Homo sapiens: one gene and its partners. The protein of the gene in region 1 interacts with the protein of each later gene in a biochemical or structural test. Each region holds a gene or a part of one and is shown in the gene's direction. Other genes may lie near its edges.

Region 1 (3,500 bases):
TATAATGTAATATATGTTATGTAATAATTATATATGTCATATATAATTTAATTATATGTCATATTTAATTATATATGTCATAATTTATATATGTCATATATAATTTAATTATATGTCATATATAATTTAATTATATATGTCATAATTTATATATGTCATATATAATTTAATTATATATGACATATATAATGTAATAATTATGTGTCATACATATATGTGTCATATATAATGTAATAATTATATGTGCCATATATAATGTAATAATTATGTGTCATATATAATGTAATAATTACATCATATATAATGTAATAATTATATATGTCACATATAATGTAATAATTATATATGTCACATATAATGTAATAATTATATATGTCACATATAATGTAATAATTATATATGTCACATAATGTAATAATTATATATGTCACATATAATGTAATAATTATATATGTCACATATAATGTAATAATTATATATGTCACATATAATGTAATAATTATATATGTCACATATAATGTAATAATTATATATGTCACATATAATGTAATAATTATATATGTCACATATAATGTAATAATTATATATGTCACATATAATGTAATAATTATATATGTCACATAATGTAATAATTATATATGTCACATATAATGTAATAATTATATATGTCACATATAATGTAATAATTATATATGTCACATATAATGTAATAATTATATATGTCACATATAATGTAATAATTATATGTCACATATAATGTAATAATTATATGTCACATATAATGTAATAATTATATATGTCACATATAATGTAATAATTATATATGTCACATATAATGTAATTATATATGTCACATATAATGTAATTATATATGTCACATATAATGTAATTATATATGTCACATATAATGTAATTATATATGTCATATAATGTAATAATATATGTCATATATAATGTAATAATTATATATGTCATATATAATGTAATTATATATGTCATATATAATGTAATTATATATGTCATATATAATGTAATTATATATGTCATATGTAATAATTATATGTCATATGTAATAATTATATATGTCATATATAATGTAATAATTATATATGTCATATATAATGTAATCATATGTCATATACAATGTAATAATTATATATGTCATATACAATGTAATAATTATATATGTCATATACAATGTAATAATTATATATATGTCATATACAATGTAATTATATGTCATATACAATGTAATTATGTTATATATAATGTAATAATTATATATGTTATATATAATATAATAATTATATATGTTATATATAATGTAATAATTATATGTTATATATAATGTAATTATATATGTTATATATAATATAATAAGTAGTAATTACTTATTATTTATAATTAGGTGTATTCTGAGAGTCTTGATCTTTGTTTTTCACATTTTGACATTTCATGCTCAGATTTTGAGACTACTTTGTTGACATTATTCAGGCAAAGTTTCAGTTAAAATGGAGTAGAAGTTTTTGTACTTTAATACCGAAGGGGTAGTAAAAGCAAGGGTGGTCAGATCTTGAAACTGGGGACAAAGACTGCTAGTATCAGCTAATATTTTCACACCCCTGCCCAAATGTCCCTCTTTAATGCAAATTGGAGTTAGTAGGTTCTCAACAAGAGAGTGGAGTTCCCCCTTGGGAACTGTCCTTGTCATGGGCCAGGAGTGGGGAATAGCAGGGGAAGGTGGTGGCAGACTAACTAGTAAGATTAGTTCTGGACACAGGGCAGAAGGAAAGAACACCGTAGGCTTGTGCCTTCTCTTTGTTTCCTTGTGTTCTTTAGTGCCCGCAGTCAGTCTCCTTGTTTTTTTTTTCTGGCCACAGGATAGTAAAGGGCAAAGTCCTGGAGGATGAAAAACAGTTCAGCACCCTCATTGAGTTTGTTGCCTTGATAGGTTAATTCTGATGTTGCAGCAGTCCCCTTTGTCACTAGAGCTTCTGAGACAGTTTCTAAAATTAGACTGAAAAAACATAGCTACTCAAAGATAATCAAAAGTGAGAAAAGTCAGAATAGTGTTTACTTCTGGGGGCTGGGAGACTGAGGGAGCCTGTGAGGGAACTGTAAACGTTCTGTATCTTGATCCGGGTGGTGGTTATGTGAGTGTATCAAATGTGGAAGTTAATTTAGCTGTACACTTAAGTTTGGTAGACATTATATGGTTTCATATTTGTATATTACATTTCAATTAAAAAATGAAAAAACCCACCAAACATCCATAGGGAAGAGCAGACCTATGTGTCTTTAATTCTAGCCTAGCATTCCACTTCTCTGATTCTCTTGGTAGGCAAATTACAATGAAATAAGGCTCCTTTGGCCGGGATTGTGTGAACTCTGGGTAGAGGGAGAACAGACCAGTGCCTTGGTTAAGGAACAGGAGCCCTTCTGTGCTCCCTTCACTCCTTACTGGCTCCCTGCTGTACTTCTGAGGAAAGTGAAAGCCCTTCCGCTTCCTATTTCTTATTGAAATATCTTGCACTTCAAGAAAAAGAGTTTGGTTCTTAATCCTTTCCTGAGATTCCTTATTTGATCTCCCGTTCCCAACTCTCAGTAAATTTCTGCCCCAGGCTCCTTGAGAATGGGTTGGATATTGAGGATGTTGAAAATTTAGTACTATATTCTTTTGACCAGGGGTTTCTGAGGGAGTCAGCAGAGTTTTGTCTGCTTTGGTGTGGCTAAGAGGGTCAGTTGAATATGGGCATCTCTTTCCCTTTCCTTGATCCCACACTGAATGAACCTGTGTGATTTCCCCACTTCTCTGCTCCTTGCAGACCCCTTGTCTGTGTCCCCTGCCCGCTGGGCTGAGGAATATTTGGAGCAATCAGAGGAGAAGCTGTGGCTGGGAGAACCTGAGGGAACAGCCACCGATCGCTGGTGAGTTCAGATACCTCTTTCCGAATCCCGTGAAAGGAGTATGGACAGTTTTCCCAGCCTCCTCCATCCACGTTCTCGAACCAACTTACTTTATTCTTTTTTTTTTTTTTTTTTATCATTCTTGGGTGTTTCTTGCAGAGGGGGATTTGGCAGGGTCATAGGACAATAGTGGAGGGAAGGTCAGCACATAAGCAAGTGAACAAAGGTCTCTGGTTTTCCTAGGCAGAGGACCCTGCGGCCTTCCGCAGTGTTTGTGTCCCTGGGTACTTGAGATTAGGGAGTGGTGATGACTCTTAAAGAGCATGCTGCCTTCAAGCATCTGTTTAACAAAGCACATCTTGCACCGCCCTTAATCCATTTAACCCTGAGTGAACACAGCACATGTTTCAGAGAGCACAGGGTTGGGGGTAAGGTCATAGATCAACAGGATCCCAAGGCAGAAGAATTTTTCTTAGTACAGAACAAAATGAAAAGTCTCCCATGTCTACTTCTTTCTACACAGACACAGCAACCATCGGATTTCTCAATCTTTTCCCCACCTTTCCCCCTTTTCTATTCCACAAAACCGCCAT
Region 2 (3,500 bases), on another chromosome or scaffold:
AAAAATACAAAAATTAAATCCCAGCACTTTGGGAGGCCAAGGCAGGCAGATCACAAGGTCAGGAGATTGAGACCATCCTGGCTAACACGGTGAAACCCCGTCTCTACTAAAAATACAAAAAAAAAAAAAATTAGGTGTGGTGGCACATGCCTGTCGTCCCAGCTACTCTGGAGGCTGAGGCAGGAGAATCCCTTGAACCCAGGAGGCGGAGCTTGCAGTGAGCCGAGATGGTGCCACTGCACTCCAGCCTGGGTGACAAGCGAGACTCCATCTCAAGAAAAAAATAAAACCCACAAAAATTAGCCAGGCATGGTGGTGCACATGCCTATAGTCCCAGCTACTCAGGAGGCTGAGGCACAAAGAGAATCATTTGAACCCAGGAGGAAGAGGTTGCAATGAGCCGAGACTGTGCCACTGCACTTCATCATGGGCGACAAAGTGAGACTAAGTCTCAAAAAAAAAAAAAAAACTAAATCATGTTTTTTAGTTGCTTTAGCTACATTTCTTTGTTTTTGTTTTGTTTTTAGCCACATTTCAAGTGCTCAATAGCACATGCAGATATAGACTATTCCATTGTAGAGAGTTCTACTGGGCAGTACTAGAGTAACCAGTTAATACTTTGGGATGTCAGGTAGAGATACATGTGAAATACATGTGAAAGGGAGTGGATGTAGGTTTCCTCCTGAATGGAGGAAAAACTACTGGGGTACTCAAGAGTAGAGCTCATTGAACCAACCAATGACTGAACCAACCCGTTCAGCTTTTCCCACAGCCTGAATTCAGTTTCCCCACTAATGACCACTTAATGTTAATCCCTGTGGATGCCTGGTGTCACTAATAGGTCTTGTGGGAATAAATGTCTTTACCATTTCACTGGCTCTGGGCCAAGTTGAAAGTGTCACAGAAAGGTTATCTTTACTGAGAAAATTTTTTGGAGCCAGAGTCGGGATAGGAGGTGATATTCTCTTCCTGGTACCCATTAGAGGGAGAGGTTTTCAGGTCTGCTACCTCAGGCCCCACCTTCCACAAGCCTTGTGGTTATGGGAAAGACAGGATGGAAATAGACATGTTGGCTGCTGAGAGACAGGTTAGAGCCTGCCCCCTTAGGAGAAGGTTATAACGTGGTGGTTATTTCTCTAATAGAGGTACTTGGAAGGCTCCATCGCCCCTGAAGACAAAGGAAGCTGCTCATTGCTGCCTGGGCCTCCATTTGCCAGAGAGTTACACATCGAAATTGTGTCTTCTCCCCACTACAGCACTAATGGAAATTATGACGGTGTTCTTTACCGGCACTTTCAGATACCCAGGTTAGCTACCTAACCTTTTAAGGAGGATAGCTTCTCACCCTCATTACATTCCTCCTATCCCATGCCTTAGAACCAAGTACCCCAGAGGCCCTGGTTAAAAGAAGCCACATTTGCGGCTAGGTGCTGTGGCTCACGTCTGTAATCCCAGCACTTTGGGAGGCCGAGGTGGGCGGATCATGAGGTCAGGAGATTGAGAGCATCCTGGCTAACATGGTGAAACCCCGTCTCTACTAAAAATACAAAAAAAAAATTAGCCGAGTGTGGTGGTGGGCGCCTGTAGTCCCAGCTACTTGGGAGGCTGAGGCAGGAGAATGGCGTGAACCCGGGAGGTGGAGCTTGCAGTGAGCCGAGATCGCACCACTGCACTCTAGCCTGGGCGACAGAGCGAGACTCCGTCTCAAAAAAAAAAAAAAAAAAAAAAAACAAAAAAAACATTTCAGACAGATTGTGGTAGGCGCCTCTTGGTATATCAGGGAGACCACAGAAGAGAAATCTGAACCATGAGGTTAATTTGGACATTCCAAACAGAGACACCTGTGATTAAAGAGGGCTCCAAAAGAGCCAGGATCCTGCTCTGCCACTCATCTGTCTCTGATCCCCCTTTCTAGTCTCTCCACCATTTCCCCTAGCTCATCCTAAGACTGACTTGTTCCTTGGAGAACTGCGTGGGATCTCTGGGCGGGCAGTAGACTCAAGAAGTAGTCTGCATGTCGGGGGTGGACATGTGGTAATGAACACATGCTCATTACTCCCATTGTGACCTGACCAGGGCCACTGCTGTGTTGCAGGGTAGTCCAGGAAGGGGATGTTCTATGTGTGCCAACAATTGGGCAAGTAGAGATCCTGGAAGGAAGTCCAGAGAAACTGCCCAGGTATGCAGCTGCCTTCTGTCCTACAGCTGGGATTTGTAACCTGGGTGCATGAGTTCTACAATCCCCTCCCTGCAAATCATGTGTAATTTGTGCCCAAGAGGATTTCGTTGTCATGTATTTTGTGTGTGCGTGTGTGTGTGTAACAGGTTCTTGCTCTGTTACCCAGGCTGGAGTTTAGTGGTGCAAACACAGCTCACTGCAGCCTCTACCTCCATGGCTCAAGTGATCCTCCCACCTCAGCACTGCCTCTGCCCCAGTAGCTGGGACTACAGGTTCGCATCACCACGCCCAGCTATTGGTTTTTGTATTTTTAGTAGAGATAGGGTTTCGCCATGTTGACCAGGCTGGGCTCGAACTCTTGAGCTCAAGTGATCTGCCTGCCTTGGCCTCCCAAAGTGCTGAGATTACAGGTGTGCACCACTCACCCCCAGCCTGTGTACATTTTTTTGGAGAGAAAATTCACCTGTCCTTCAGTTCCCAAACAAGTGTATGACTGAAGAAAGGTTAAGAACCAGTCAGGCATGGTAGTGCATACTTATAATCCCAGCTACTCAGGAGGCTGGGCAATATAGCTAGACACTGTCTCAAAAAACAAGCAAACTAAAAGAACCACTCCCTGCTGGCTTTGGGAGGTGTTTATCCTCAAACTGACTGGTGGCCCTATGTAAAGCAAAGCACTAAGAAGAGTTTAGGCCAGGTGTGGTGGCTCACGACTGTAATCCCAGCACTTTGGGAGGCTGAGGCAGGCAGATCACTTGAGGTCAGGAATTCAAGACCAGCCTGGCCAATATGGTGAAACCCTGTCTCTACTAAAAATACAAAAATTAGCCGGGTGTGATGGTGGGCATCTGTAATCCCAGCTACTCAGGAGGCTGAGGCGGGAGAATCACTTGGACCTGGGAGGCAGAGGTTGCAGTGAGCCCAGATCGCATCACTGCTCTCCAGCCTGGGTGACACAGCAAGACTCCATCTCAAAAAATAAATAAATAGGTAAAATTTAAATTCTTTTCTTTTTAAAGAAGAGTTTAATGGCCTAGACCAAGACGGGATTCCTTCCTTTCCGTTCTTAGCCTTCGTGTTATTTGGACCAAGACTTGGGCCATACCATCCATATCTCAACGTAAGGATATACAGGCTCTGATTTCTGCCTTAACTACGGAGTGTGCACAAACTACTTCTCAATCCTATCTCTGAAAACAGGAGAGGGATTTCTCTTTTTTTTTTTTTTTTTTTGAGACAGAGTCTTGCTTTGTTGCCCAGGCTGGAGTGCAGTGGCGCAATCTTGGCTCACTGCAAGCTCCGCCTCCCGGGTTCATGCCAT
Region 3 (3,930 bases), on another chromosome or scaffold:
AGTTCGAGACCAGCCTGAGCAACACAGTGAGCCCTCGTCTCTACAAAAAATAAACAAAATTAGCTGAGCATGGTGGCATGCGTTTGTAGTTTCAGCTACTCGGGCGGCTGAGGTAGGAGGACCCCTTGAGCCCAGGAAGTGGAGGCTACAGTGAGCCGAGTTCGTGCCACTGCACTCCAGCCTGCGTGACAGTGAGATCCCAGAGATCCTCTCAAAAACCAAAACTTCAAAAACAAAAACCCGCAGAAACTCCTAGGGCTATGAGGAGTAAATGAGATAACTCATGCAGAGGCAAATTTACCATGAAGCAAATGAAACTTCAACCATGGGGGTCCTTAATTGAACAGTTTCTTCCACATCCGGGCATCTAATTTTGTATTAATAATTCTCCTTTTTTCTTTTTCTCAAAGAGTACCCTCGAACTGTATGACAATCAAGCCCTACCCAAATGCCAGTATCAGTACTTACTAAGCATACTGCCTGGGACAGAGAGATGCTCAACACGGGGCCCCTCCAGGCACTGGGCTGGCCTGGTCCCCTCTCTGTGGCTGAGGAGAGGGCTCCTCCTCTCACTCTGCCCTTTCTGTCTTTTCAGGATCATTTCTTCTTTCTTCAAAATGAAAGTAAAACATGCTGGGAATAATTTCATAATTACAAAACTGCCCTCCCAATTGGCCCCTGCCTCTACCCCCTGACCTCACCACCCACCAGGGAGGTGGGTCTTATTCTGGGCATCGTGCCAAGTTCTTAGCGGGGCCCTCTAGAATCTCTAAAGCAAATCAGGCTGAAGAGGGGAAAACCAGCAGGGGGAGGCAGCATTCCCGGTGCCCAGTATGGTCTAGGAGGCATTGAAATTCCAGGGCCGAAGTCCTGAGACAAAGATCATAATGAGACAGGAAGGTGGCAAAGGAAGGAGCCCATTTGCATGACAATAATTGAGCCAAGAATAGAAAGCCACAGGGATGCAAGGGTGAGGCTGGCGGCTGAGCTGGGCTAAACCTCACAAATCAGACTACCCAGCTCTGCTCCGCAGGGGAAGGGAGACTGAGCCCTGGGCCAGGCTTGGCAGAGAGGGAAGCGGGAGGACACGACCCCAGGGCATTGTGGGAACACTGGCCAGGCTGGACTTTGCCTTCCTCCTCGTCCTTTAGCCGGGAGCCTGTCTTTGCTTGCCTTTGCCTTTGAGGCTCTGTGGCTGTGGGGCTGAGTGGCATCATGGCGGCTCAGAAAGATCTCTGGGACGCCATTGTGATTGGGGCGGGGATCCAGGGCTGCTTCACTGCATACCACCTGGCCAAACACAGGAAGAGGATCCTCCTGCTGGAGCAGGTACTGTGTCCCTTCTGCACCCCCAGCTGTAAGGACTGTCCTACCCTCCTCCCCTGCAGAAGGGTTTTCAGAGCCAGCAGGCTACAGGGCAAGGCCAAAGGGACTGAATCATCAAAAATTCTGTGTAATTTGTATCTTAGCTGCCTAGTGTGTTTCATGGCAATTCAAAGAAGTTTCACATCCCTCATACCCACATTGGGTTTCTAGGCACATTTCCTCTTTCTACTGCTTCCCAGTTCCTGCCCTTGACCAAGCGTCCTAGGCCCTGTTCTCTTCCTTCTCACTACTCTTTCCCTTCTGTGCCCAAATGGTTGATCCCCACCCCAGAAAAATAATTGGTTCTGCTCTAGGTAACCTAAAGTAAAGATAATTTTGCCTAGAGGCAAAGGTTGATTTATCAGCCTAAGAGGTAGGATTCTGTCTTGCATATTCCTGGCCTCTCACACCAGAACCCAGCAGAAGCTTCTGTTTTTTTTTTTTATTTTTTATTTTTTGCCACCTCCAGATAATAGCAGCCTCCTTGTTTGACACATGATAAGTGAGACTGAGGCCTTATTTTTCCTGCTACGCAGTGCAGTCTGCAGTGACCACTGCATATGTGGGTGGGCCCTGTGTGTCTGCAGGGTCCTTCGAGGACAGGGCCACCCAGCTATCCACTGCAGTGGACTCTCCCTTTCCATTCTGCCTGCAGCTACCCAGGCTGGCTATGGTTTGCTCTTCTTGGTAATGAGCCAGAGTAGTTAGAAACCTTCTTCATTTCTCTATCAGTTTTCTCAAAGCCCAAGGGATTCCTGGTTCATCCTCTCAGGAAACTCATTGTTGCTGAATCCTGAGGTGGTTCTCTTACCCTGAGTGATCTGTAGCCACAGAGAAATAAAGTCAGCATCAGTTTCCTTGTTCATAAAATGAAGGGGCTGGAGTAGTTGAACTGGAAGGTTTTTTCTAATTTTGCTTCTTTGTGAATCTAAGTGAGGTGAGATTGCAGCAGGATGGTTGAAGACTAGCTAACAAAAGAACTTCTGGATGTGAACAACGTTAGCAAAAAGGAAGCCTAAGTTAGTGCTATTGAAGAACTTCTATCTTGATTGCCAAGTCAGTAAATTGGTCATAAAGAGAGAATTTGGAAAGATTGTGTGAATTTTTTTTTGTGGGGGGACAGGATCTCACTCTATTGCACGGGCTGGAGTGCAGTGGTACTATCATAGTTCACTACAGCCTCAAACTCCTGGGCTCAAACAGTCCTCCTACCTCAGCCTTCCAAGTAGCTGGGACTACAAGTGCCACCACACCTGATAGTTTTTAAATTTTTGAGAAGACTGGGTCTTGCTATATTGCCTAAGCTGGTCTTGAATTCCTGGGCTCAAATTATCTTCCTGTGCATAATCCTTCCCCAGATTGTGTGGAAATATTTGAAGGATAAATGGCTCCTGGTTGACAGCACATGCTGATATGGCTCTTAACAGGGGATGCAGTGTGAGGGGTAATGGCTTCCATCATCTCTCTTGTTTTCCACTTCCAGTTCTTTCTACCACACTCCCGAGGAAGCTCCCATGGACAAAGCCGGATAATCCGAAAGGCGTACCTGGAAGACTTTTACACCCGGATGATGCATGAGTGCTATCAGATATGGGCCCAGCTGGAGCACGAGGCTGGAACCCAATTGCACAGGTGGGCTGTGGGAGGAATTCCTTGAATCGTGGGGCTCTGCACCTGCAGGTACTTTTAGTGTGTGAAGTGGCAGCGCCATGGAACATTTGGAATGCAATGGGAGGGACACAAGGCCTCAAGAAGTACCAGATGCATGGAAGAGTTCTGCTGTCATGGTGGTCACCCCACAGGTCCAGCTGACTCTGGCCAGGCTCTGCGTTGCAGGACTGGGTTCAGACCATGTGTCCAAGGCTAGCAGAAGCAGTACTGGAAAGCCTGCTGGCAAGGCACCGTGTGGCAGATGCCCAGAGTGGACAGGAGTCTGCTGGAGTGTGTATTTTCAACTCTGTGGAGGCCTCTGCAACTCTTTTAGGGCAGGGGTTGAGATAGAGGAGGAGGCTGCTTTCAGGAGGATTCTTTTTTTTTTTTTTTTTTTTTTTTTTTTGACAGAGTCTCGCTTTTTTGTCAGGCTGGAGTGTAGTGGCGCCATCTTGGCTCACTGCAACCTCCACCTCCCGGGTTCAAGTGATTCTTCTGCTTCAGCCTCCCGGGCAGCTGGGACTACAGGTGCGCACCACCACACCCAGCTAATTTTTGTATTTTTAGTAGAGACAGGGTTTCACCATGTTGGCCAGGATGGTCTTGATCTCTCGACCTCATGATCTGCCCTTCTCGGCCCCCCTAAGTACTGGGATTACAGGTGTGAGCCACCGTGCCTGGCCCAGGATTCTTTATAGTCAAATCAACATCCTAACTTTTCCTGAGGGGTCCTCACCCCCTTTAGCAGCCCTATAAACCCATTTTGTTCTCTCTGAGTACCTTTTCCTGTAGGAACAAAATGGGGACGTTCCCCAGGCTGGATTGCTTGCCAGGGAGTGAGCCTCCACGTCTTTCTCTGCTGCCTTCATGGCTCTCTCCAACCCTTGACCTTTCAAACACTCATGGGAAAGAAAG
Region 4 (2,736 bases), on another chromosome or scaffold:
CTCCATCTACTGTGATGAGTTTACCCTTCAGAGTCTTTCTTCTTTCAGCAGGGACCGGAACCACCTTACCCTCTCTGCATCTCCCACCTCTTATGCTGAACAGCTCTCCCAGGTCAAGCCTCAGGGGTCTGCCCTGGTTTATTTACTAGTTCTGAGGATCAGTGTCCTAATAAGCAACCTCTTAAGAGGATCAACCCAGCTTTCTTCACTGAATCTTTTCATGTTGTCTTTGAGGGATCTCACAGGGCGCATTAATGAATTCATTTTACACATTCAGTTCTACCTTAGGTACTGGTCTGACTGTCTCAAGTCTCACATTGTCTATGGCATAAACCTTAAGAAACCCTGCCTTTGTCTTTCACAGTGGTCATCTCCATCAGAGGCAACTGAAAGTTTCTTATCAAAAGAAATTTGGTTGCCACCCCCACAGTTCTACGAAGTGAGAAGACTTGCAAACTTTGCCTCTCTCTCTGACTTGCACAAATTTTGTTTGGGTCGTGCATTAGAAGGACTGGAAAGGTGGCTGCCGATCATCTTGTTAACTGCTGATGGGATGGTCCATCTTTTACCAGGTAAACCAGTGAAGCATCGGTGCTTTTGTTAGTATTCACATTCAGTGCCCTGGGCTGCATGGCTGTATTGCCCAACGTAGAGACAGGAATTACAGTCTGTGTTTTGTAATCTACAGGGTATTAGCTAAGTAAGATCAAAGCCTATAAAATATCCATATTATTATAACCAGAAATTCTGCATAATGTCATATACATACACATACATTTATATTAATATATTTCCTAGACATTGACAAAGGTCTTTCTCATATAATTTCTCACTTTTTTTTTTTTTTTCTGAGACAGTTTCCCTCTGTCACCCAGGCTGGAGTGCAGTGGCACAATCTTGGCTCACTGCAACCTCCACCTCCCAGGTTCAAGCAATTCTCTGCCTCAGCCTCCCAAGAAGCTGGGATTACAGGTGCCCACCACTGTGCCCGGCTAATCTTTGTATTTTTTTTTTAGTAGATACGGGGTTTCACCATCTTGGCCAGGCTGGTCTTGAACTCTTGACCTTGTGATCCACCCGCCTTGGCCTCCCAAAGTGCTGGGATTACAGTCATGAGCCACCATGCCTGGCTGATTTCTCACTTTTTTGCATTTTAAGTTTGAATTACGAGAACTCGTAAGTTGTCATCTAATTTGAATTAGGGAGCTTTTTTTTTGAGACAGAGTTTTGCTCTTGTCACCCAGGCTGGAGTGCAATCTGGGCTCACTGCAACCTTTGCCTCCTGGGTTCAAGCGATACTTCTGCCTCAGCCTCCCGAGTAGCTGGAATTACAGGCATGTGCCACCACGCCTGGCTAATTTTTTTGTATTATTAGTAGAGACAGGGTTTCACCATGTTGGCCAGGCTGGTCTTGAACTCCTGACCTCAGGTGATCCGCCCGCCTCAGCCTCCCCAAATTCTGGGATTATAGGCATGAGCCACTGTGCCCAGCCAACTTTGTTTTTTTTTTTCAGTTGGACATAATTTCAATTGAAATTATGAATTATGAAATTATGAAGAAAATAAAGTAAAATGTTAACTCTATCTCAACTGAAAATACAAAAAAAAAAAAAAAAAACAAATTAGCCAGGCATGGTGGCACACACCTGTAATCCCAGCTGCTCAGGAGGCTGAGGCAGGAGAATCACTTGAACCCAGGAGGTAGAGGTTGCAGTGAGCCAAGATCATGCCACTGCACTCTAACCTGGGCGACAGAGCGACACTCTCTGTCAAAAACAAAACAAAACAAAAGGCTGGGCGCGGTGGCTCACACGTGTAATCTCAGCACTTTGGGAGGCTGAGGCGGGTGGATCACCTAAGGGCGAGAGTTCGAGACCGGCCTGACCAACATGGAGAAATCCCGTCTCTACTAATAATACAAAATTAGCTGGGCATGGGGGCGCATGCCTATAATCCCAGCTACTTGGGAGGCTGAGGCAGGAGAATCACTTGAACCCAGGAGGCAGAGGTTGTGGTGAGCTGAGATTGCGCCATTGCACTCCAGCCTGGGCAACAAGAGCGAAACTCCATCTCAAAAAAAAAAAAGATTTATTACTCAACCTACAGTGGGAAAATTTAGCAGTTTTGATGGAATTTCTCTAAATTAACCTGAAGATGATAAGAACAGCCCACTTTGAAACATCAAAAGTATATGAATATCAAGGCCAATCTTAATATCAGTATTGAATAGAATAAAGAGAGTCATGAACTGGTATAATAGTTACAGTTCACAGTGGAAACATACCAGTCACAGATGTTTATGGGCCCAAAGAAAACTCTTGGCTGGGGTGTTGTAAGGGGATATTAAAAACACAAGAAAGAGGACAGGCGCAGTAGTTCACGCCTGTAATCCCAGCACTTTGGGAGGCCGAGGTGGGTGAATCATTTGAGGTCAGGAGTTTGAGACCAGCCTGGTAAACATGGCGAAACCTGTCTCTACTAACAATACAAAAATTAACCAGGCGTGGTGGCAGACACCTGTGATCCCAGTTACTCGGGAGGCTGAGGCATGAGAATTGCTTGAGCCCAAGAGGTGGAGGTTGCAATGAGCCGAGATCGCGCCACTGCACTCTAGCCTGGGCAACAGAGTGAGACTCCATCTCAAAAAACAGATAAAAAAACACAATAAAGAAATTGAGGTAAGCTCATAGAATTAGATTAGTTAACAACTATCTCAGTTCCAAACATATTAAATAG

Evidence for each region. The genes of interacting proteins can lie anywhere in the genome.
Region 2: the proteins of PEX5 (region 1) and PEX6 form a complex in vitro, tested with the Homo sapiens proteins (one study listed by BioGRID).
Region 3: the proteins of PEX5 (region 1) and PIPOX interact in a test that uses a peptide from one of them, tested with the Homo sapiens proteins (one large-scale study listed by BioGRID).
Region 4: the proteins of PEX5 (region 1) and NUDT19 interact in a test that uses a peptide from one of them, tested with the Homo sapiens proteins (one large-scale study listed by BioGRID).

What each region holds. Positions count from the first base shown.
Region 1 is NC_000012.12:7,196,186-7,199,685, forward strand, and holds part of PEX5 (peroxisomal biogenesis factor 5), read left to right. Parts: intron 1-2,825; coding exon 2,826-2,928; intron 2,929-3,500.
Region 2 is NC_000006.12:42,972,682-42,976,181, reverse strand, and holds part of PEX6 (peroxisome biogenesis factor 6), read left to right. Parts: intron 1-1,143; coding exon 1,144-1,307; intron 1,308-2,095; coding exon 2,096-2,179; intron 2,180-3,500. UniProt on the Homo sapiens protein: Component of the PEX1-PEX6 AAA ATPase complex, a protein dislocase complex that mediates the ATP-dependent extraction of the PEX5 receptor from peroxisomal membranes, an essential step for PEX5 recycling.
Region 3 is NC_000017.11:29,042,011-29,045,940, forward strand, and holds the start of PIPOX (peroxisomal sarcosine oxidase), read left to right. Parts: upstream 1-1,130; 5' UTR 1,131-1,215; coding exon 1,216-1,329; intron 1,330-2,848; coding exon 2,849-2,997; intron 2,998-3,930. UniProt on the Homo sapiens protein: Metabolizes sarcosine and L-pipecolic acid.
Region 4 is NC_000019.10:32,708,821-32,711,556, forward strand, and holds part of NUDT19 (acyl-coenzyme A diphosphatase NUDT19 precursor), read left to right. Parts: intron 1-364; coding exon 365-572; intron 573-2,736. UniProt on the Homo sapiens protein: Fatty acyl-coenzyme A (CoA) diphosphatase that hydrolyzes fatty acyl-CoA to yield acyl-4'-phosphopantetheine and adenosine 3',5'-bisphosphate.